Linked DNA regions of Homo sapiens: regions 2 and 3 are each linked to region 1. Evidence: fine-mapped expression QTL. A gene starts in region 1. Each other region holds a variant in brackets. All regions are shown on one strand. Distances are from middle to middle.

The links. PIP is the estimated chance that this variant, and not a neighbour inherited with it, causes the effect.
Region 2: its variant is fine-mapped to the expression of FAM218A in breast (GTEx, PIP 0.96).
Region 3: its variant is fine-mapped to the expression of FAM218A in whole blood (INTERVAL, PIP 0.99).

Annotation. Positions count from the first base shown.
Region 1 is chr4:164,952,597-164,960,781 of GRCh38, reverse strand. It overlaps FAM218A (family with sequence similarity 218 member A), which reads right to left and starts at 3,834. Exons shown (of 1, transcript NR_160935.1): 1 at 1,651-3,834. It also overlaps a transcript of TRIM61 not described here. RefSeq lists enhancers at 3,575-3,734, 4,035-4,084.
Region 2 is chr4:165,398,982-165,407,166 of GRCh38, reverse strand. All of the region lies in intron 1 of CPE (carboxypeptidase E), which reads right to left. It also overlaps the pseudogene HADHAP1. Among named protein-coding and RNA genes, the nearest start is that of MIR578, 17 kb to the right of the region's middle. The variant A/G (reference allele first, on the strand shown) is at 3,355.
Region 3 is chr4:164,973,824-164,982,008 of GRCh38, reverse strand. TRIM61 (tripartite motif containing 61) reads left to right here and starts at 4,352. Exons shown (of 3, transcript NM_001414904.1): 1 at 4,352-4,478; 2 at 5,184-5,321. RefSeq lists enhancers at 4,074-4,133, 4,164-4,243. The variant G/A (reference allele first, on the strand shown) is at 4,479.

The DNA.
Region 1 (8,185 bases):
ATGGGTTTTCACCACGTTGGTTAGGCTGGTCTTGAATTCCTGACCTCAGGTGATCTGCCTGCCTCAGCCTCCCAAAGTGATGGGATTATGGGCATGACCCACCACACCCAGCTGGTAAATATTTTTATACTTGTAGATTATATTAGTTTTATAGGGAATACCCTAATATGGTATCACAAACTGGGTAGTTTACATAACAGGAAATTTTTTTTCCTTTTTTTTTTTTTGAGACAGAGTCTTACTCTGTCGCCCGGATTGGAGTGCAGTGGTGCCATCTCGGCTCACTGCAACCTCCACTCCTTGGGTTCAAGCAAATCTCCTGCCTCAGCTTCCCAAGTAGCTGGGATTACAGGAGCCTGCCACCATGCCTACCTATTTTTTTTTCTTTTTTTTGTATTTTTAATAGAGATGGAGTTTCATCATCTTGGCAAGGCTGGTCTTGAACTCCTGACCTCGTGATCCACCCGCCTCGGCCTCGAAAAGTGATGGGATTACAAGCATGAACCATCGTGTCCAGCCCATAACAGGAAATTTATTGTCTCACAGTTCTGGAGGCTGGGTCCAAATTATGAGTGTTGGCAGGATTGGTTTGTTCTGAGGGCTGTGATATAGAATTTCTTCCATGCCTCCAGGTTCTGTTGTGTTGCTGCCAATCTTTGGCATTCCTTGGCTAGTAGATGCATCACTCCAATGGCATTCCCCCGTGTTTCCTCATATAATCTTCCTCTGTGCATATCTTTGTGTCAAAATTTCATCTTTTTATAAGGACTGCAGTGATACTGGATTAAGGCCCACCCTAATGACCTCATTTTGACCAATTACCTTCTAAAGACCTAATTTCCAAATAAGGTCACATCTGAAGTACTGGAGTTAGCCCTTCAACATACTTTTTCGGGAGAACACAATTCAACCAATAGCAGAGATGAACTTGTTTCCCTTCTGCTAGGCCCGTAGTGAGGGTGTGTTTGTATTAATCGAGCCAGGAGTTAGGCAGAGTTTGAAGTTTGTTATTGCTATCGTTACCATTAATACATTAAAGACTTCACACTCCCCTAGTGATATGTCTCTTTAATTTCTCAAACTGGATTCTACTGTTATTTTTACTCAACTCCTCTTAGTGTGGTTTTGGGAGTTGGGGAAGCCTGTGTTCTCTGATGTTCTGATTGAGCATGAGTCATGGGCAAGCACTCTGAACTTTGGTCTCAGGCATGTGTGGCCTTCACAAATGTTCTTCACCCTCCTCCAGATGTAATGCTGGGCCTAGCACACATTCCCACATCTCACAGCACAAGGAAAATGACTGGCACATCTTCCAAGTCCCCTTTTTCAGGGAACTACCTGGTGATACGCTCACCAAAAGAAGGGAAGAAAACTAAGAAGGAAAACAAGGGACTCAGACAACAATAGACTTAAAACCTCTGGACATAAGACAGAAGATAAAAGATAATTCTTAGGGTAAGGGAAACATGAAAGGCCTCAGAGGACAGCTGTGCATCATATCACCAAATTTCAGTTCATGCTAAGATGACAGAGGGCTTCAGGAGATTGAGCACTATAAAGAAAATGAATATAATCAACAAATTACATGTCGAGTTTAGAAAGGAACTTTAGAGATGAGCAGATATGGGGCTGAAAGAGATAAACAGAAAATGCAGCAAGTAAGAAATCAGGCAATTTTAATCACAATAAAACAAAATTTGTGTATCAAAGAAATTATAATTATAGCACCTAAGTGGCTCAGCTGTGAACAATTATATAGTCATATGAACGTATTAATCCAATTATATTACCATATTTGGATATTTGTGGGGAAAGATAGAGTATGTGCCTGGGTGGTGCGAGAGACCTAAATTCTCAGTTTATCTAATAGAATGTTAATTTAAAATGTCTAACATTAGACATATTACAGTTATGAAGAAATAGCAAGGTCACTGGAATAAATCATGCCTCTGTTTAACAGGAATTTGGTGTAGGATGGCATGACCCAGGAGGTTTTTGTTTTTATATAAGCCTGTTTTGTTGCTGGAATGAACTAATAGCTCTCTACATAATTTTGATAAAATTCATAATGTGGGAAGCATTGAATTATTGACTGTGTAATACCATCTTTCATCTTAGAATATCAAAAGTACTTTACAATTTATTCCCATTACATCTCTGAAGAGTAGGCATTTCTAATACTGTTTTATTGATAGTTGCTAAAATAATGAAAGAAAAAAACTTTCTTCTGCTTGTAAGTGGCAGACAATTCAGAATTGAAGAGCTCCTCTCCTAAATAATACAAAATAGCTTTCAAATAATTCATCCTTCATAATCTATTACTGTACAGGTTATAAGAGGTTAGAAATCATACCCAGTGTGAAACACAGCCTAAGTAGTTTCATAAAAATATCACTTGAAGAAAAGATTTCAGACCTGGCATTCAAGTCATAAGATTAAACCTCATCCCCTTCATTGTCCAGAACAAATCCTAACATTACTGGGTCTTACTTTTAATAGAACGATTGCCACTCTATGTAGTGTAATTACTTTGGCAAAGTTATTACATTTCTATAGCTGAAAACTAAAGCATGAATCCTATTGTGATGGCGTCTTTTTCCATCTCCTGGGAAGACAATTCTAACAAACAACTCTATTATATCTATCCAGTTTGATTTTGTCCTCTTTCTCTTCCTCCTGGTAATAACAGCCTTAATCTTTTTTGGATCATGAGTTTTTGTGGTGTCTTTCCAAATCGCACTGTATTCTATCTTTAGAGATACAAGATTATGACTTGCTGTTTCAGAATCTAGAGTCAGATCTATGTAAAATGAATTAAGAATGTTTTGTCGACCATAATGTTGTGGCAGAAGTCTAGAATCATCATCCCTTGTTAAAATGGAAAAGCTCATAAAGTTTTTGTCTTAATACCTGTTATTGATACATACCCTTATATCAGTTACTAATTATTTGAGTGAATAGTTTACTCTGCTATCTCACTTATTAGAGCTTTAAATAAGAAAATATGGTCTGAAAGTTTTGTTTTCATCTAGTGTGCGTATCATATCCTATTCTTTATATTTTCAGGTTTTCAGAACTGCATCTTATTCATTTTCCGAATAAAGCACAAAGTGCTCAAAATCAGAGTTTAATCTCTTCCTCTAATATTCGACTATCTTCGGTAGCATTCATGTATTTTTAGTTAACATAACGATTGGTTTAGTTTTGGCTTATTTAAAGCATTTTACACTTGCTGTTTCAGATGTCAGATGTCCCCTGTGAGCTTCTTCCTTGAGGCAGCCTGCTCTATAGGACAGGTGAGCCCAGCGGGAGCCAGCCCACTGCAGACCCAAACCCTCTAGTCCTTGTCACAAAAAGAGGCTGGGACCTGATGGTGGTTCTCTTCCTGACTTTTCCTGGTGGTCCTTCTGACTTGGAGTGGCCTGGCAATTTCGGTGGCGTGACAGCCGGAATGCTGCCACTAAAATTCCTCTCTGGGCACCATGAGCGGCTGACAGGGCACGCGGAGAAAACGATTCGCTTCTCCCAGGATTGGTGGAGCGACCGCTGTTGGACGAATGTGGTCGTCCCTGGATGTCTGAGCAAAGAGACACTGCCATGGCGGCCGCCGGTCAGCGTATAAGGTCTGTTAGGGAGACCCGAAGCCCTGCACCAGGAACGCAGTTTGGCTCGCCCAGCCCACCCTGCAGGGCTGGCTCTCCAGGCGCTGGGTCCGGGGAGAAGAGGACAGCTGCCCCGCCGCACCGCGCATCCTTCCATCCACTGTGGTACATGGCGCTGCCCCGGTCTCCAACGTCGCGCCACACCTTCACGGTCTCACCCGGAAGTCGAAGCCCAGAGACGGTGCCGGCCGCACCCAATCACTGCTCTGCCGCTCCGACTTCCGCTACGGACTCGCCCAGCCTCCTGGGAGAAACGCTGCAGTGCTTGGGGTGCTGAAGCCCCTTGAGAGCCTTGTGTTCTGTGAGAAAGTTGCATTCTGAAGGAACCTCAGCTGTTTGCTTTGCTCTTCTGCCACCCAACCCTACCTGTGCCAGACTGAGGGCTCTCCCTGCCCCGCCTTAACAGAAGAGAATTCCAGTTGCTGTTTTAATTTATTGAATCTTATTTATAACTGGTTGGAGAAAAATATGGTTATAATTCCCACTGAACAGCTTATTAAAAGTTACAGTAACACTATGATAATTGAGATATTGTCTTTTAGGGAATAAATAATGAAATTATAAGATGAAATATACAGATGAAATTATAAGATGTCTGGGAATTTACTCCATTGGCAGGAGAAGTTGCTGGGGTTATAAAGATTGTTAATTCAAATGATAGAAATTGGTTTCTTTTTATGTGTACGTTCTTCATAATGTTCTCTCTACTATTATGGATGTATGAAATACTCCACAATTTAAAAGCTTCCTTTTATACCCGGCATGGAAGCTCATGCCTGTAATCCCAGCACTTTGGTAGGCTGAGGTGGGCGGATCACATGAGCTCTGGAGTTTGAGACCAGCCAGGCCAACATGGTGAAACCCTGTCTGTACAAAAAATACAAAAATTAGCCGGACATGTTGGCCCGCCCCTGTGGTCCCAGCTACTCCGGAGGCTGAGGTGGGAGAATCGCTTGAACCTGGGGAGTTGAGGTTGCAGTGAGCCAGGATGGCGCCACTGCACCTCAGTCTGGACGACAGAACGAGAGCTTGTCTCAAAAAAATAAATAAACGAAAGATTTATTTCAAAAGGCTAATCATGTTTCAGCGTTATCAATGCCTCGTTCCAGAAAAGCTCATTTCTCTTACTCTTTTCTTTGAGCCGCCTCCCCGTTTTCAGTCCGCCTCAGGGCTCTCAGATTCTGTCTCCTTTGTCTTCCTCCTCACAGTTGTCCCTAATCTTAATCGATTTTCCATCCTCTACCAATTTCCTGTCTACACCCTCTTTAATCTCATAAAACTGCCAAATTAGTTTAAATCGGGATTGAGGAAAGAGCGAGACTAGGCATTGTGCTTCCATCTGGGTGTGTGTGTCTTGTGTGTGGATCCCAGGCCTGGTCTCAGATTACCTGAGTCATCTGGGGCTGGTCCCTGATATCCTCTCTTCATCCTTTTGTGGTCACATGAAGACAAGGAAAATCAACCTCAATTTCCCTTTAAGTTTTCTGTAAATATAAACACCAATAAAGACATATCTTCTGGAAAACTTGTTTTTTTTTTTTTTTTTTTTTTGAGACTGAATCTCTCTTAGTCACCCAGGCTGGACTGCAGTGGCAAGTTCGTAGCTCACTGTAGCCTCAAACTCTTGACCTCAAGCAATCTTCCTGCCTGGGCCTCCCACACTACTCGGGTTGCAGTCTTGAGCCATTGAGCTCAGCCTGGAAAAAATTTTTTAAAACATAGGATTTGGTGTGGCACAGAACTCAATATATTCCAAGAATGGTTTGTGTTTCTGATTCTTCTGTTGACTGTTTAATGGTAGATATGCTGATTATGCAGAACAGTTCAGACATAATTAGATGTAATTAGGGCAAACCAGCATGAGGCCCCTTATGAGAAGTCCAAATCTGTGATTGTCATACAACATACAAAAGAACTGTCTCATATACGATGTCAGAGTAAAGAGTGAACCAAATAGGTTATGTGTAGGACATGTGTATACTACTATAATACCATAATAATTTTTTTTTTTTTTTTTTTTGAGATGGAGTCTCCTTCTGTCACCAGGCTGGAGTGCAGTTGCACGATCTCGGCTCACTTCAACCTCCGCCTCCCGGGATCAAGCGATTCTTCTGCCTCTGGCTCCTGAGTAGCTGGGACTACAGGTGCCCTCCACCATGCCCAGCTAACTTCTGTATTTCTAGTAGAGACAGGGTTTCATCATGTTGGCCAGATGGTCTCGATCTCTTGACCTTGTGATCTGCCTGCCTTGGCCTCCCAAAGTGCTGGGATTACAGGCATGAGCCACTGTGCTGGGCCAATAAAATTTTAAGTAAATATAAAACAGCATATTTATATTTTATTTTTTGTAGAGATGGTTGCCCAGGCTGGTCTGGAACTCCTGACCTCAAGCGATCTTCCTGCCTTGACCTCCCAAAGTGCTGGGATTATAGCCATGCTGCCAACCATGTGTAGGGTATGTATATGTTCCTATACCATAATAAAATTTTAATTACATTTGTAAGGTATGTAATTATATGTATTTCTGTATAATATGTACATATAAATATGCTAATTAATACAAGAACATATTGAATTATAATCAATATATATAATTTTAGATGTATATTGGAATGTTTATCTTTCTAATAATACAAAACTGATGGTTAAAAAATAAAATGCACAAACTCCCCAAGGTTCCTTCCTATGTGGCTACTTTCCCCAGCTTAGGTCCAGCCAAAGGCTGCACGCCCTTTACTGAGTGTAGCTCACCTGTGCCTCCTGGTGCAATCCTCACTCAGATATTCTGCTCCCAGTAGAGGGTTAGTGTAGGGTGCGGAGCCTACCTGTATTCACTTGTCAGCAGTTCACTGGGGATTGTCAGCTTTTTCCATCCTTGCAGAGCTGTTTCTTCGTCGATCCAGGTCAGAAGACGCAACACAGTCCCTACTTCTTGTTCACCAAAATGGTGACCTCAGAACGAATTCAGTCTTAAACCCTGTAGGGAGTTTTTTTTTCCTTATGCAGTCAGCATGGGGGAAGTGACAGGTCCCAGAGGGCAGTTCTCTCTTGTTCTCTGATTGCTCCTGCAGGGTCCTGGGTTGGTGAAGGGGACAGGGGTAGGGACCTGCAGAATGGTTGTGATGGGGTGGGAGCTGCGGAAGTAACACATCATGCACTGAGTGGAGCATAAGGGCAAGTGCTGGGTTTTTTTGTTTCACTTTTTTTTGGACACAGGATGTTGCTCTGTCACCCTGTTGTGCAGTGATGCAGTCATGGTTCACTGTAACCTGGAACTCCTGGGCTCAAGCAATCCTCCAGCCTCAACCTTCCAAATAGCTAGGACTGCAGGCACACATCACCATGCCCAGCTAATTTTTAAAAATTATTCTTTTTGAAGAAACGGTGTCTCACTATGTAGGCCAGGCTAGTTTGGAACTCCTGGCCTTATCCTCCTTTCTTGACCTCCCAAAGTGCTGGCATTACAGCCATGGCTCCCAGCCAGTCTTTTGTTATTCATAATGAGCCCCTTTGGATCAACTGGATTTATGCTAATGAGGTGGGTTGGGTTGGGGCCCCAGGGTAGCCTCAGGATAGGGCTACTCACAGAAGACCAAGTGATTAGAACTTTCAGTAGGATGGTGGGGGGACCTGGAAAATAAACTTTATACAAATTCTTGAAGAAAGTAATATGAGGAGCTTTGAGATTTGTGAACACCTTGAGGTGCGGGGAGGGTGGACCACCCAGAGAGGGAATGAAACTATATTTAAATATTAAATGTGATACCTATACTGCACTTACACTTTTAAAATCGTTCTTTTAGTGATTTATTTTAAGATATAGATAAAATGATATGATGTATGAATACTGCATTAAAATGATTTGGGGAAGGTAGAGCATGATCTTGATAAAATAAAATTGACCATAATAATTATTGAAATTGTGTAATGGATCTATGGGGGTTGGGGTGATCTATTGTACAATTATGTCTCTCTTTCTGCATGTTGGGACTTTTCCATAATATCCCAATAATTAAACTGAGATCATACAGCATCCTAATTATTGTTGTGTCAACCCCACATGGGAAAAATTGAACACCCATCAAATTTAGTCCAGATATAAAGACTGATTATGCCACACACCCACACACACACTAGAAGGATAGGAACAGGTTTGTTTCTCACATGCTGGGGTGTTGAAGGAGAGCAGCACAGGCCTGTAGGTGGTCTGTAAATGGACTGTGAGAGCAGAGAAAGAAGACGGGCTTGGTGTTTTTCTTCAGGTTAAGGTGTGGGCAGGGTGAGGGATCACTCATTCACAATGAAAGTTGCCTGGTTTGAATCTCTTTCCTGCCCTGAAGGAGGGAGCACCTGGGCTTTCTTGGCAGGTTGCCCAAATGTGCGGCCAAAGAAAAAAATGGAGGAGTGACGATTAAAAGTTATCAAGGGTGAAAAACTGTAAAAATGGATTTGAACTATTTTGTAGGATTCCCCCACACCCTGATGTTTAACTGTTGATTAGATGCACCATGTTTCATTTCATT
Region 2 (8,185 bases), 450 kb before region 1:
CTGGCAGTTCCTGAAAATGTTAAACAAAGAACTGCAATATGACCCAGCAATTCCACTGCTAGGTTCATACCTAAAAGAAATAAACACACATATCCACAAAAAAAACTTGCACATAAGTGCCATAGCAGCAGCCTTGTTCATGATAGACAAAAAATTGAAACAACCCAGATGTCTATCAACTGATGAATGGAAAAACAAAATATGGTAAATCCACATAATGGAGTACTAATACATGCTACAACATGGGTGAACCTTGAAAACATTATGCTAAGTTAAAGGAGTCGGCCACAAAAGACCACATATCACACAATTTGATTTATATGAAATGTCTAGAATAAGCAAATCTACAGAGACAAAAAGTCGATTAGTCTGGTGGCCTAGAGTTGTTGGAGCAGGATTGGGAGGAATTGGGAAAATGAGGAATAACTGCTAATGGGTATGGGGTTCTTTTTGAGGTGATGATATAAATGTTCTAAAATTGTGGTGATGGCTGCACAACACTGTGGATCTACTATAAACCATTGAATTTTACTTTTAATTGTGTGAACTATTTGGTATGTGAATTCTATCTCAATAAAGCTGCAACAAAGTAATAATGACCACAAAGATTTTCAGCCATTAAATATTAAAATATTTAATAAAAGAGACAAGTTTTAGGAGGGAGCTTAAGAACAGTACAATTCTGAAATCTGAGGGAAAAACTGTGAAGTCAGTTCATTTGTATTCTCCTTGGTTATAATACATTTAAAAAGCTAATACAAAAGATAAGAATGAAATTAAAGAGAAGCGCTCTCCACTGCTGTTCTCTTCAGCTCAACATGGTGGTCTACCGGGCGATTGGCAGCCTCAGCCACTTCTCTGCCTTCAGGATCCTCCGCTCCCAAGGTTATATACGCCGCAATTTTACAGGGTCCTTTGCTTTGCTGACCAGAACCCATATTAACTATGGAGTCAAAGGGGATGTGATAGTTATTTAAATTAACTCTCCCCATTCAAAGATAAATACGCTGAATAAACAAACAGCTGCATTCAGAGTTCACGGAAGTTATGAATGAAATCTGGGCTAGTGATCAAATCAGAAGTGCCATCCTTATCTCACCAAAGCCAGGCTGCTTTATTGTAGGTGCTGATATCAACATTTTAGCCACTTGCAAGACCCCTCAAGAAGTAACACAGATACCACAAGAAGCACAGAGAACATTTGAGAAACTTGAAAAGTCCATAAAGCCTGTTGTGACTGCCATCAGTGGATCCTGCCATTTTATGCCAATATAAAATAGCAACAAAAGACAGAAAAACAGTATTCGGTGCTCCTGAAGTCTTGCTGGGGATCTTACCAGGAGCAGGAGGCACACAAAGGCTGCCCAAAATGGTGGGTGTGCCTGCTGCTTTTGACATGATGCTGACTGGCAGAAACATCCGTGCAGACAGGGCAAAGAAAATGGGACTGGTTGACCAATTGGTGGAATCTCTGCGACCAGGACTAAAACTTCCAGAGGAATGGACAATCAAATACCTAGAAGAAGTTGCAATTACTTTCCCAAAGGACTAGCTGATAAGAAGATCTCTCCAAAGAGAGACAAGGGATTAGTGGAAAAATTAACAGCGTATGCCATGACTATTCCATTTGTCAGGCAACAGATTTACAAAAAAGTGGAAGAAAAAGTGTGAAAGCGGACTAAAGGGCTTTCCCTTTATCCCACACCTCTGAAAATAATTGATGTGGTAAAGACTGGAATTGAGCAAGGGAGCGATGCTGGTTATCTCTCTGAATCTCAGAAATTCGGAGAGCTTGCAATGACCAAAGAATCAAAGGCCTTGATGGGACTCTACCATGGTCAGGTCCTGTGCAAGAAGAATACATCTGGAGCTCCACAGAAGGATGTTAAGCATCTGGCTATTCCTGGTGCAGGGATGATGGGAGCAGGCATTGCCCAAGTCTCCGTGGATAAGGGGCGAAAGACTATACTTAAAGATGCCACACTCACTGGGTTAGGCTGAGGACAGCAACAAGTGTTCAAAGGATTGAATGACAAAGTAAAGAAGAAAGCTCTAACGTCATTTGAAAGGGATTCCATCTTCAGCAACTTGACTGGGAAGCTTGATTACCAAGGTTTTGAAAGACAGACATGGTGATGGATGCTGTCCATCCATCACAACTTCCTTAGTTTTAAGCACAGAGTGCTAAAGGAAGTAGAAGCAGTGATTCCAGATCACTACGTCTTTGCTAGTAACACATCTCCTCTCCCAGTCAGTGAAATCGCTGCTGTCAGCAAAAGACCTGAGAAGGTGATTGGCAGGCACTACTTCTCTCCCGCAGACAAGATGCAGCTGCTGGAGATGATCACAACCAAGAAGACTTCCAAAGACACCAGTGCTTCAACTGTAGCAATCGGTCTCAAGCAGGGGAAGGTCATCATTGTGGTTAAGGATGGACCTGGCTTCTATACTACCAGGTGTCTTGCACCCATGATGTCTGAAGTCATCTGAATCCTCCAGGAAGGAGTTGACCCAAAGAAGCTGGATTCCCTGACCACAAGCCTTGGCCTTCCTGTGGGTGCCGCCACACTGGTGGATGAAGTTGGCGTGGATGTAGCGAAACATGTGGCCAAAGATCTGGGCAAAGCCTTTGGGGAGCAGTTTGGAGGTGGAAACCCAGAACTACTGACATAGATGGTGTCCAAGGGCTTCCTAGGTCGCCAGTCTGGGAAGGGCTTTTCCATCTATCAGGAGAGTGTGAAGAATAAGAATTTGAATTCTGACATGAACGGTATTTTAGCAAGTCTGAAGATGCCTCCTAAGTCTGAAGTCTCCTCAGATGAAGACATCCAGTTCCGCCTGCTGACAAGATTTGTGAATGAGGCAGTCACGTGCCCGCAAGAGGGGATCTTGGCCACACCTGCAGAGGGAGACATTGGAGCCGTCTTCGGGCTCAGCTTCCCACCTTGTCTTGGAGGGCCTTTCTGCTTTGTGGATCTGTATGAAGCCCAGAAGATAGTGGACCGGCTCAAGAAGTATGAGGCTGCCTATGGAAAAGAGTTCACCCCAAGCCAGCTGCTAGCTGACCACACTAACAGCCCTAACAAGAAGTTTCATCAGTGAGCAGGCCTCATGCCTCACTCAGTCAGTGCACTAACCCCAGCTGCCGGCAGTGCTGGTTCTCCAACAGAGTGGCATCTAGATTTATCAGAGTAACGAGAAGGAAGACAAACTCCGGCATTGGGTTTGCTCCCTGATTAAAGTGCCTTCAGCCAAGATCATCTCCCCCTCCTGGTGAAATCTGACTGTGAATTAGAGTTTGCGCTATTGGAAGGTGGAACCCACTGTGCTCATTGTATAAGCCCTGAGGCCTAG[A/G]GTGGCAGCCAAGAGCCATCTGGAGCCATCTCTTTGCCTGTTCCTGTCAGGAGGCCAGGGTGGCCAGGGGTGGTGAGGGCAATTCTGCACCCAGACAAACACATAACAATAAAAACCAAACTCTGTAAAAAAAAAAAAAAAAAGAATGAAATTAAAAACATGAATTACAAGAGGCTTTCAACATCCTCTTTTCATGTTGTTAGCAAGCCAGAAAACACATTCCCCATGGCATATGTTACAATTTAAATTTCATTCAAAAATTAAATCATTGTCACATTAATAGTGGTAGTAGGATTTTAGAGCTGGGGCCCCAATGATTATTTATTCCAACTTCCAGATTTTACAAAAATAGACTGCTCTAACATTTTCCATACCACTCCACACTGCTTCCCCATCAGTGTGCAGACATTAATTTTTACTTAATGCAATTCTAATAAACTGTTTTCTGGAACATGTGTTTCATGGCCTCAAGAATATGATTTTTTTTTTAATTTCTTACACTGTTTTCTTTTCACATTTAGTTGACATGAGCCTTTCCTGGTTTCAATGACAGGTGGTGATGGTTTCCTTTATGATACACACATCATAAAACAGTCGCCTTCAGCTTTTGTTTTTTAATAGCTTGCTTACATAAGTTTTACAGAGCTATGAAAGAATCAAATAGCAATCAAAATATTCTTCATAATCACCGTTAATTTCTAGTTGATTCCCAGTGTTAACTTTTTCAATCTGAGTTCAAATTTGGTGTGCCTGCATTTTAGTTCAGGATCAGATATTTCCCAGTGTTCGATTGTTTCAAATCCAGAAAAACAGAAGAAGAGTCTGGCATTTTACATTCCAGATTTCAAAAGAACAATCTATTTCCAAAGAAAAAATATCTTAAAAATATTTTTTATAAACAAAGGTAGTTTTCTCATTTCTGTTTTTCCACTTGCCACATTCTTCAGGTTTTTGTATTGACTCCTCTTCGGGGGAGAGTAAGTCTTTTTGTGACATATTTGCAAGTGTATATTTTAATTTACATGGTGCATTAGGCCATTCTTGAATTACTATAAAGAAATACCGGAGACTGAGTAATTTATAAAGAAAAGAAGTTTAATTGGCTCACGGTTCTGCAGGCTGTACAAGCATGGTGCTTGCGTCTACACGGCTTCTGGGGAGGGCTCAGGGAGCTCTCACTCATGGTAGAAGCAGGAGCATGCACGTCACATGGAGAGAAAGGGAGTAAGGTGGGGGAGGTACCATACACTTAATCAGATCTCGCGAGAACTCACCAGGAGATAGTGTCAAGTCATTCAAGAAGAATCTGCCCCTGTGATCCAAACACCTCCCAACAGGCTCCGTCTCCAACACTGGGCATTACATTTCAGCATGAGATTTGGTCAGGGACAGATATCCAAACTGTATCACATGGTGTCATGTAACCGGCCAGAATCACTAGAAACACCAACATCCTTTAATACTGAAGTATGCATCTCAACAATTCTGTGTAACTATGAGAATAATAAAGGTTACAAATGGGACCAGTCATTTATGAAATTCTTTCAAAGATCTGAAGAGGTAAATGATCATCTAAGCAAACTCTGAGAGAATCAGGCTGAAAATGTTGGCCACTATTATTATTAGCACATTTTCCTTCTCTTTCACAAATAAATAGGTACAAAACAGTAGTGGCTTCTTGATCCATAAAGAAGCTTTATTACATTTTTATTAAATATATATTTTTGATGGAAATATCTCACAACCTTCTGAAGAAAGAACTGATATAAAAAATAAAATAATCTGTCCATTTATCACCTTTCCCTAATTATCCTTTCCTCTTCATTCCATTGTCACCACACCTTTCCAGGTCCTCATCAAATTATGCCAGTATTACTCTATCAGCCTTTTGCCCAGCCTCCCGACCCCTACTTTAAACACATCTGGCTTAATATTAAAATAACTAATTTTATTACAACACCACTTTCCACAGAATCATTCTATGCTCACAAGACTGCAGAAGCCCCTGTAACCCACCATTGTGTCTAAATTCCTCTGTCCAGCTTCCAGGGCCTCATATATTGTGGCATCACTCAATCTTTCCAAAAGTATTTCATGTTCCCCCACACATAAACCCTCCTCCACTCAGGAAGGCAGATGTTCCACAAGACAAGAAATAATGAGAGGAGAATACAGTTTGGGAAATAATAATAATTTCTATTATTCATTAAGTGTATGTTGTGTGCCATTAACTGTGCTCAGCACATTACATGTGCTATTTCATTTTACCCGCACATAAATCTTACGTGACAGGTTTCATGATTTTACAGAGTGGAAGCTGAGCCACATAAAGACTTTCTTCTTTAAGGCCATTAAGCTATTAAACGGCAGACCTGGCAGCCTTATGTCTCACTCCAATGCTCAAGTTCTTATCCACATGTTGACTATCACTTATAGTAAAAGTGTACTAGGCAGGTGGATGTGCAAATCCAAAGCTCACTGGGGAGAAACAAGGGTTATATTTTTCCTTCACCGGCTTCTAGTTAACTGCACCTGTTGTTATGAGTGAGCCTGTCTATGGAAAAGGCGTGTAACGAAGAGAAGAAACCAAGAACAGAACTCTAAGCAATGGCACCACTTACAGGGTGTACAGAAGAGAAGGCCGCAGAAAAGACTGAGAAGGTGTCAGGAGAACCAGAAGAGTTATCCAGTACAAATCAAAGAAGTGGGGTTTCAAGTCACACTAAAGGGGAGTAGTCAGCTGTGTAAAGAAAAAAAAAATCAAATAAGGTCAAGTAAGATAAAGATTGAAAACGGCTCATTAGAACTGGTGATGAAGAGCTGGGATAACTCATAATTTATCATCCAAACTAGGACAGTTTTGAGGGTGAAAGAGGGCTCTATTAACAAATACCCCAGGAACACTGAATATGTTGGAAACAAAGACATAAGGTCACCCTATTAAGAAGTCAGTAGTGGCCCTTTGTGAGAACCATATGAAGAGAGTAATGCAGTGACTGCCACAATGATATGAGTTCAGGAATGAATGTGTGTTGAAAATAGTATGTAATCTTTCAAAAAACTTAGTTTATTCCTTCTTTACTCCCACTGCTTCACTTGACTAGCCTTTAAAAAAGAAAGGCTTGGTTTGATGAATGGGTGAGAGAAAAGGTGAGTGTTAGAGGTGAAACTGCCCTTCACTTACTCCTTATCCATTTGTTTGACTTCTTCCTCTTGACTCTACTGAAACTACTTCCCCAAATGTCCCCAGCGACTTCCAACCAGTGCTGGGAGTGAGTGACCTTTACTGTATCCTCTGCTTCATTAACTTCCACAGCACTGGGCATCGTCATATGCCCCCAGTCCTATCTTGAGACTACAGCTCTGAATCATACCTACTGCCTCTTTCTTTGACTACATCTCTCTGCTCTCTTCTTGCTCATTTAATCTTAAAAATGTTGGTGTGTTCTAAGTTTCTGCCTGATACACTTTCTCTCCTTTGCCTATTCTCCCTCCCTCAGTCATCTCATCCATAATCACCATTTTCACCCTCACCAGTCATGCAAGTGATTCCTAAATCTTTTCCTCTGTCCTCAAATTCTGCTATGAAATGAATTTCATTTCAAACTGCTGGCCATATATCTCTCTCCAGGTGGTGGGTCCACAACACCTCCCTAAATATGTCAAAAGCATACAATATCTTTTTCTTAAATTAGCAATGCACAAGTGATCTATTTCTGTTAACTCCCAAACAAATGAAGTCTAAATCCTCAGTCTAGCATTTAAGGATATTCATGATATGGCCAAAGACCTACTTGTAAAGATTTTGCTTCCTCTACATGTACAGTAAGGTCTAAGCACAAAGTGCTCTGTTATTATCCTCTGAACATTATCTTGGAACCCACTCTTAGAGAGGCTGGGATTATAACACTGATGATTGCTTCTGTTTCTCCTAGAATTCTCTTCTCTCCTCTACACTGGTCAAGATTAAGCCAATCAGAAGTCTCGGTGAGTATCCTTATTAAATGTGTCCTCCATTCTTCAATCTCAAACTTCGCTTTGTATTACTCTTAAGGTACTTGTCATTTTCTATCTTATCATAACATATGCATGTGTCTTATCCTCCCTAGTATATAGGGAACTCCTTTAAAAGAGGATATGTGGCCAGGCACGGTGGCTCACACCTGTAATCCCAGCACTTTGGGAGGCCAAGGCATGTGGATCACCTGAGGTCAAGAGTTCAAAACCAGCCTGGCCAACATGGTGAAACCCCATCTCTACTAAAAATACAAAAATTAGCTGGGTGTGTTAGCGTGTGCCTGTAGTCCCAGCTACTCAGGAGGCAGGAGGCCAGGGCAGGAGAATCGCTTGAACTTGGGAGGTGGAGGTTGCAGTGAGCCGAGATCGTGCCACTGCACTCCAGCCTGGGTGACAGAGACTCTTTCTCAAAAAATAAAAAAGAGGGTATGTCTTTTCACAGATGTACAACAGGTATTTATTGTTTAGAATCAACAGTTATAATTAGTAGAATAGATGCATTTGACATCTTAATACATCTTACTTGAAAATCCATTATTTTTATCACCCTCAAAAGTAAAAGAAAAACTGACAGCTGTTTATGCTCTGATATATTAAACATCCTCAGTAAACATTATTTTAAAACTACATCTCTGGTTTATGAACATATAATGTGAGAGAACAGTTTATCAAGTAGATTAATTTTTAGGCACATCAAGATTAATATGATCATTTAGTATAGTACATTTAGGCAATTAAATTTTTATAATATAAGTAAGTACCACAATAAAACCCTTTAATGCCTACTGTCAAAGCCTAGAATAGTGAATTAATT
Region 3 (8,185 bases), 21 kb before region 1:
GCGTCCTTACAGGCCTTTACATATTTTTATGGACAGGAAGAGGGAGAGTAGTCTGCTAAATCCAGATGGAATAGACATAGAGCAAAGCTACAAAGCATCTTAGAATGTAACAGGCATGAAAAATATTCTTTAGCTGAAAAACTAGATCACTGATAAACTTGGAACAGTCTCAGTGGAGGAGTAAAGATGAAAGCCCGATTGCTTCTGAACTCTTCTTTTTTTTTTTTTTTTTTTGAGACGACGGAGTTTCACTCTGTCGCCAAGGCTGGAGTGCAGTGGCACAGTGTCAGCTCACTGCAACCTCTGTCTCCTGGGTTCAAGCAATTCTCCTGCCTCACCCTCCTGAGTAGCTGGGATTACAGGAGCCCACCACCATGTCTGGCCAGTTTTTATATTTTTAGTAGACATGGGGTTTCACCATGTTGGCCGGGCTGGTCTCAAACTCCTGACCTCAGATGATCCACCCACCTCGGCCACCCAAAGTGCTGGGATTACAGGCATGAGCCACCGCACCCAGCCCTGAACTCTTGTTGTAGGGAAGAACAAAATTCTTAGGGCAACTGGTCTAGAAGAGTAATTACATCACATCTCTTTAGGTTAATTAGCATCTAGCAGGTGGGCCCCATCCAGTTAAATTATGCTGTATCCTATGAGGTATAGTCAGCCTTGCAGGATTCAGTGCCATATTGATGGGGTTCCCATATTAAGTATTTATTTGTTTATTTATTTATTTATTCACTTACTCATTTATTTTTGGGACAGAGTCTCGCTCTGTCGCCCAGGCTGGAGTGCAGTGGCGCCATCTTGGTTCACTGCAACCTCTGCCTCCCAGGTTTAAGCAATTCTCTTGCTTCAGCCTCCTGAATAGCTGGTATTACAGGCGCCCATCACCAGGCCTAGCTAATTTTTGTATTTTTAGTAGAGACAGAGTTTCACCATGTTGGCCAGGCTGGTCTCGAACTTCAGACCTCAAGTAATCACCTGCCTCGGCCTCTCAAAGTTTTGGGACTATAGTCGTTGAGCCACCATGCCTGGTCTCTTAAGTTATTTTTCTTTTTTAAAATTTTACTTTAAGTTCCGGGATACATGTGCAGAATGTGCAGGTTTGTTACATAGGTATACATGTGCCATGGTGGTCTGCTGCACCTATCAACCTGTTATCTAGGTTTTAAGCCCCGCATGCATTAGGTATTTGTCCTAATACTCTCGTCCCCTTGCCCTCCCACCCCCCAACAGGCCCTCATGTTTTGTTGCTCCCTGTGTCCATGTGTTCTCATTGTTCAACTGCCACTTTTGAGTAAGAACATGAGGTGTTTGATTTTCTGTTTCTGTGTTAATTTGCTGAGAATGATGGCTTTCAGCTTCAACTATGTCCCTGCAAAGTACTATGTCCCTCAACTATTTCCCTCATTTTTTTATGGCTGCAGAATATTCCATGGTGTATGTGTTCCACATTTTCATTTTTTTTTTTCTTTTTGAGTTGAAGTCTCGCTCTTGTCCTCCAGGCTTGAGTGCAATGGCGCCATCTCGGCTCACTACAACCTCCAGCTCCCGGGTTCAAGCGACTCTCCTGCCACAGCCTCCCGTGTAGCTGGGATTACAGGTGCTTGCCACCATGCCCGGCTAATTTTTGTATTTTTAGTAGAGACAGGGTTTCACCATGTTGGCCAGGCTGGTCTCGAACTCCTGACCTCAGGTGATCCACCTGCCTCAGCCTCCCAAAGTGCTGGGATTACAGGCGTCAGCCACCACGCCCGGCTATGTTCACATTTTCTTTATCCATTCTATCACTGATGGGCATTTGGATTGGTTCCAAATCTTTGTTATTGTAAATAGTGCTGCAATAAACATACGTGTGCATGTGTCTTTATAGTAGAATGATTTATAGTCCTTTGGGTATCTTAAATAATTTTTTTTTTGGTGACAAAGTCTCCCTCTGTCGCCCAGACGGGAGTGCAGTGGCGCGATCTCGGCCCACTACAACTTCTGCCTCACGGGTTCAAGCAGTTCCTCCCCTGAGTAGCTGGGATTACAGGCAGGCGCCACCACGCCGGCTAATTTTTGTATTTTTAGTAGAGATGGGGTTTCACCATGTTGGTCAGGCTGGTCTCGAACTCCTGACCTTGTTATCCGCCCACCTCGGCCTCCCAAAGTGCTGGGATTACAAGCGTGATTTTTAATGCCACGTACTGTGACAGGGAAAGAAACCACCCTGCTGGCTGCATAGTTTGTTTAAATAGCATAATATACAGGGTGGGTGCAGTGGCTCACACCTTTAAGTAATCCCAGCATTTTGGGAGCCCGAGGCGGGTGGATCGCTTAAGCCCAGGAGTTTGAGATCAGCCGGGCCAACACAGTGAAACCCCCGTCTGTACTGAAAGCACAAAAACTTAGCCGGGCGTGGGTGGCACGCGCCTGTAATCCCAGCTACTCTGTAGGCTGAGGCAGGAGAACTGTTTGAACCAGGGAGGCTGAACCCGCGAGGCGGAGCTTGCAGTGAGCCAAAATGGCGCCATTGTACTCCAGCCTGGGCGAAAATAACAAATAAATACCATGCACTCACCTCACTGCAAAGTAATATGGGGGAAGCTGCTGCCACTGGTATTTCTTTTCCTTTCTTTTTCAGGAGACTCTGGAATTTCAAAAGGTTTACGAACAAGGACTTTGCTTTATCGGTTGATTTGTCTAGGTCACACCTCTATTCAACTGTCCACCATACACCCTTTCTAGGATATATTAAAGGCATCGACGGGTCTTTATTCCACAATTCAAATCTTAGTACTTCATGTTTAAAATGCTTCACTGGCTTTTCTTTGCATTTGATAAAAACCAATATCCTCAATTTTGCCTAAAGGGCCTTGCAGCATTCATTCTCGCCTATCTCATCAGCCTCACAAAGCCATTTTCCATATTTTATACTTCTTGCAATTTCCCACGTTGTAGTGCCAACCAAATGACCTCTTTCAGTTCCTTTTGTACCAAGTTTTTAAAAATTATCATCTCTAGGCAGGGCGCGGTGGCTCACGCCTGTACTCCTAGCACTTTGGGAGGCCGAGGCGGGCGGATCACGAGGTCAGGAAATCGACACCATCCTGGCTAACACGGTGAAACCCCGTCTCCACTAAAAATACAAAAAATTAGCTGGGCGTGGTGGCAGGCACCTGTAGTCCCAGCTACTCTGGAGGCTGAGGCAGGAGAATGGCGTGAACCCGGGAGGCGGAGCTTGCAGTGAGCCGAGATCACGCAACTGCACTCCAGCCTGGGCCACAGAGCGAGACTCCGTCTCAAAAAAAAAATAAAAATAAAAATAAAATTATCATTTCTGGCTGGGTGAGGTGGCTCACGCCTGTAATCCTGGCACTTTTGGGAGGCCGAGGCGGGCGGATTGCCTGATCTCAGGAGTTCGAATCCAGCCTGGGCAACACGATGAAACCCCGTCTCTACTAAAAATACAACAACAAAAAATTAGCCAGGCGTGGCGGCGTGCGCCTATAGACCCAGCTACTCGGGAGACAGAGGCAGGAGAATTGCTTGAAACTGGGAGGCAGAGGTTGCAGAGAGCCAAGATCGCGCCACTGCACTCCAGCCTGGGCGAAAGAGAGATTCCGTCTCTTATTAAAAGAAAAAAAAATCATTTCTAAAATATTTTGTAGACGCAGGGTCTGGCAATGTTACCTAGGCTTGTCCTGAACTCCTGGCCTCAAGCGATCCTCCCACCTCTGCCTCTGAAAGTGCTTGGATTACAGGTGTGAGCCACTATGCCCGGCCTGTACTAAATTCTTTAAAGTTGAGAGGCTCCACATTGGCTCTTCTTCCAGCCTTGAAGACTTTGACCGTGGAATTGATCCAACGAATGCCTCTTCATCCCTCAAATTCCGCCTGAAATGTCACTTCCTCAGGTAAACCTGAGTTCATAGGGTAGGGCACAATCCCACAGGGTGGGAGAGATCCACCCACTCACCCACTGAGATGCAAACTAATCCAAAGGGGCTTCTATTCCTCTTTCAAGCATAGGGAGTGCTCAACGACTCCACCCTGCGACCCCAGGCTACGGGAAGCAGTTGACCCTGCAAAGCTCTCCACTCCCTCACCATCTGGGAGGGGACGCTGTGCTGGTGAAGCTTTTAAAACCAACTTGCAGACTTACTTGGACCCTCAAGTTTACTCATATACATAAAAAGTGATAAGAATCCGAAAAGACAGCCAGGGGAATTAAATGCCAGTTGGGGCCAACGGGGCCCTGATCACGGAAGAGGGCGCCCCCAGCTCTCAATCTTCACACAATCCCTGCACCCAGGGTCACAGAGCATGCGCAGGTCCTTCCCGCCCACTTCCGGGGCAACTGCCAACCACCGCGCAGGCTGAGCCCCAGGCAGGAAGCAGCCCACTTGGTGGGGTTGGGGTATGAGTCCTTCCTCGCGGGGGCTCGGTGGGTCCTGAGTATTCTTTGGCCGGATTTGCTGATCCGTCTGCTCCAG[G/A]TGAGCTGGGAAGGCCGCAGGAAAGGCCCAGAAGGGCCTCGCCAGGAGGCTTAACTGGACAGGGGCTTCTTGAACATTCTCTGTGCCTAAACCTCCGGGTCGCTGCCTGCCCACGACTGGATCTCCTTAGTGTCTGGCGTAGCTCTTGTGAAAAATTCAGGATTGTAGAGTTAGAATGGGGGTGTTGAGCCTGTATCAATTAAGCTTTAAATGTTATGATCTGAATTAGGGTTTATGAAGTGGCTATGTTATCTTCAAAGAGTTAATGTACGTGTTTGGGAGTGGGGGTTGGGGAGTTAAGGGAGCGAAGTGGTAGCTGCCAGTTGAGAACCCACCAGCCTACGTCGTCTGCACCCTCGACCTATGTAAGCATCCTGTAATCCTCACAAGGGTCTTACAGGTACGAATTATCATTTCAACTTTGTAGATGAGGCGCTTTAGGTGCAGGCATGTTAAGAATCAGCCAGTATGATGATGGTTGAAACTGAGAGCTTGGAATCTACCACAGGTTTTATTTATTCCTCAAACAAGCTAGAGACGTATTGCCACCAAGAAGCTTGCTGCCTGGTGAGGGGTTTTTACAGTTAGGTAAAGAATTGCAGAGTAGCTGTAAAATCACATAACTGTGATATGTGACATGATGGGAGCTAGGCAAAAAACTTGGACTAGATCTTAATGGATCTTTTTGCTTTGTTTTCCTTAAAGCATAGGTTCACAAAGTACAGTCCGCAGGCCAGCAGCATCATCTGGGAACTTAGGAAAAAACCAGCCCTACTGAGTCAGAAACTGGGGATGTGGCCCAGGCAATCTTTTACCAAGACCTCCAGGTGATTATAATGCAAGGTAAGATTTGAGAATTGCTTCCATAAAGTAATAAAGGACCAGTGGAATGTTTTCAGTTGAAATATGAAAGGATTCTGTTTGTATTTGAAAAGGTCAGTTTAGCTACAGACTTCAGAAATTGGAGGCACCATTGTGTATCTAGGAGAGAGACATAAGTGGTTTAAACTAGGGTGGTGACTGTGCCTACAGAGCTGTTCTGTTCACTTAATGTCCTGATTTTAAATAGTAGAGAAGACTGCTTTGGGTGTATGCTTGGGGAAAGGAGGGCACAATGATACCTGGAGTGAGTCCTCTTGTGTCCTTTATGAAGGGGTGGCCTGCCCCTCCACACCTGTGGGTATTTCTAGTCGGGTGGGACGAGAGACTGAGAAAAGAAATAAGACAGAGACAAAGTATAGAGAAACAACAGTGGGCCCAGGGGACCGGCGCTCAGCATACCAAGGACCTGCACCGGCACCGGCCTCTGAGTTCCCTCAGTTTTTATTGATTATTATTTTCATTATTTCAGCAAAAAGGAATGTAGTAGGAGAGCAGGGTTATAATAAGGAGAAGGTCAGCAACAAACATGTGAGCAATAGAATCTATGTCATAATTAAGTTCAAGGGAAAGTACTATGACTGGACGTGCACGTAAGCCAGATTTATGTTTCTCTCCACCCAAACATCTCAGCGGAGTAAAGAATAACAAGTCAGCATTACTGCAAACATGTCTCGCCTCCCACCATAGGGCGGTTTTTCTCCTATTTCAGAATTGAACAAAGGTACAATCAGGTTTTATACCAAGACATTCAGTTCCCAGGGGCAGGCAGCAGACCGTGGCCTTCCTCCATCTCAACTGCAAGAGGCTTTCCTCTTTTACTAATTCACCTCAGCACAGACCCTTTACGGGTGTCAGGCTGGGGACAGTCAGGTCTTTCTCATCCCACGAGGCCATATTTCAGACTATCACATGGGGAGAAACCTTGGACAATACCCCGCTTTCAAGGGCAGAGGTCCCTGTGGCTTTCCGCAGTGCATTGTGCCCCTGGTTTATTGAGACTAGAGAATGGCGATGACTTTTACCAAGCATACTGCTTGTAAACATTTTGTTAACAAGGCACGTCCTGCACAGCCCTAGATCCCTTAAACCTTGATTTTATACAACACATGTTTTTGTGAGCTCCAGGTTGAGTCAAAGTGGCTGGGGCAAAGCTACAAATTAACAACATCTCAGCAAAGCAATTGTTTAAAGTACAGGTCTTTTTCAAAATAGAGTCTCTTACGTCTTCCCTTTCTGCATAGACACACAGTGACAGTCTGATCTCTTTCTTTTCCCTGCACTTTGCACTGTGCTAGAGTCCTTTTTTGTATATGTTTTCTTAAAAGTACATTTTTTCTTCTGATTTTACCATTTTTTGCAATGATGCTCTGCAGTTTACTAACTATGTGACATTGGGCAAGATTCTTTTTTTTTTTTTTAAGATGGAGTTTTCCTCTTTTCACCCAGGCTGGAGTGCAATGGCGCCATCTCAGCTCACTGCAACCTCTGCCCCCTGGTTTGAGCCATTCTCCTGCCTTAGCTTCCCAAGTAGCTGGGACTACAGGCGCGCCACCATGCCCGGCTAATTTTTGCATTTTTAGTAGAGACAGGGTTTCACCATGTTGTCCAGGCTGGTCTCGAACACTTGACCTAAGGTAATCTGCCTGCCTTGGCCTCCCAAAGTGCTGGGATTACAAGTGTGAGCCACCGTGCGTGGCTGGGCAAGATTCTTAAAACTTTTTCAGGCTCAATTTTTCCAATCTCTGAGCACCCTATGCAACCTCACTCCCATTCCCATGCACTTTCTAACTTTCTTGTTCTGCTCAACAGTACCCATTTGAAAGTATTAAGCAAGTATTGGGAGTCACCATAGCCACGCTTAGTGTGGGCAGGTGGGAAGAGTGGTTTGTAAGAGACAGTATTCTTTTTATTTCTTTTCTTTCTTTTCCTTTTGTAGAGATGGGATTTTGCCATGTTGCTCAGGCTGGTCTTGAACTCTTGGGCTCAAGCGATCCACCCAGCTTGGCCTCCCAAAGTTCTGGGATTACAGCCCTGAAGCCACGACTCCCGGCCATTATTCTATGTTTTCTGTAGTGTTGTGTTAGAATTTTTCACAAGTTAAATGTACTCTCATCCCTGGATATACAATATACACAGGGCATTGGTTCCAGGGCACCCGAAGATACCAAAATCCATGAATGCTCAAGACCAGTGGATGCAGGTTCTGCATCCCAGGAATACTGTATTTTCGATTCTATCTGAAGTTAATTGTGTTAGTGGATGCTGAACTTGCCAATATGGAGGGCTATTTAAAATAAAGGATGTATTTTAAAATTCTAAAACTTCTGTCTTACTCCAAAATTAGTATAGGAAAATTCTCTGAAGCACACCACTACTACAGTGAGCCCTTGGAAGTTACTGCCTTTACTAATCATTTCAGGACTAGCAACCTTATAAGCCATAACAGCTTTTAGGTGAAATGTCAATGTGCTGCTTTTTTGAGACAGAGCCTTGCTCTGTTGCTCAGGCTGGAGTGCAGTGGCACGATCTCTACTCACTGCAACCTCTGCCTCCAGGGTTCAAGCAATTCTCCCGCTGCAGCCTTCCAAGTAGCTGGAATTACTGGCATGCGCCACCACTGCCAGCTAATTTTTGTATTTTCAGGAGAGACAAGGTTTTACCATGTTGGCCAGGCTGGTTCTCGAACTGCTGACCTCAAGTGATCCACTGCCTTGGCCTCCCAAAGTGCTGGGATTACAGGTGTGAGCCACCACGCCTGGCCCAATGTGTTTTATATGTAAGTAAATATAGGTTATCTCTATATATGTATGTATTACATATAATAC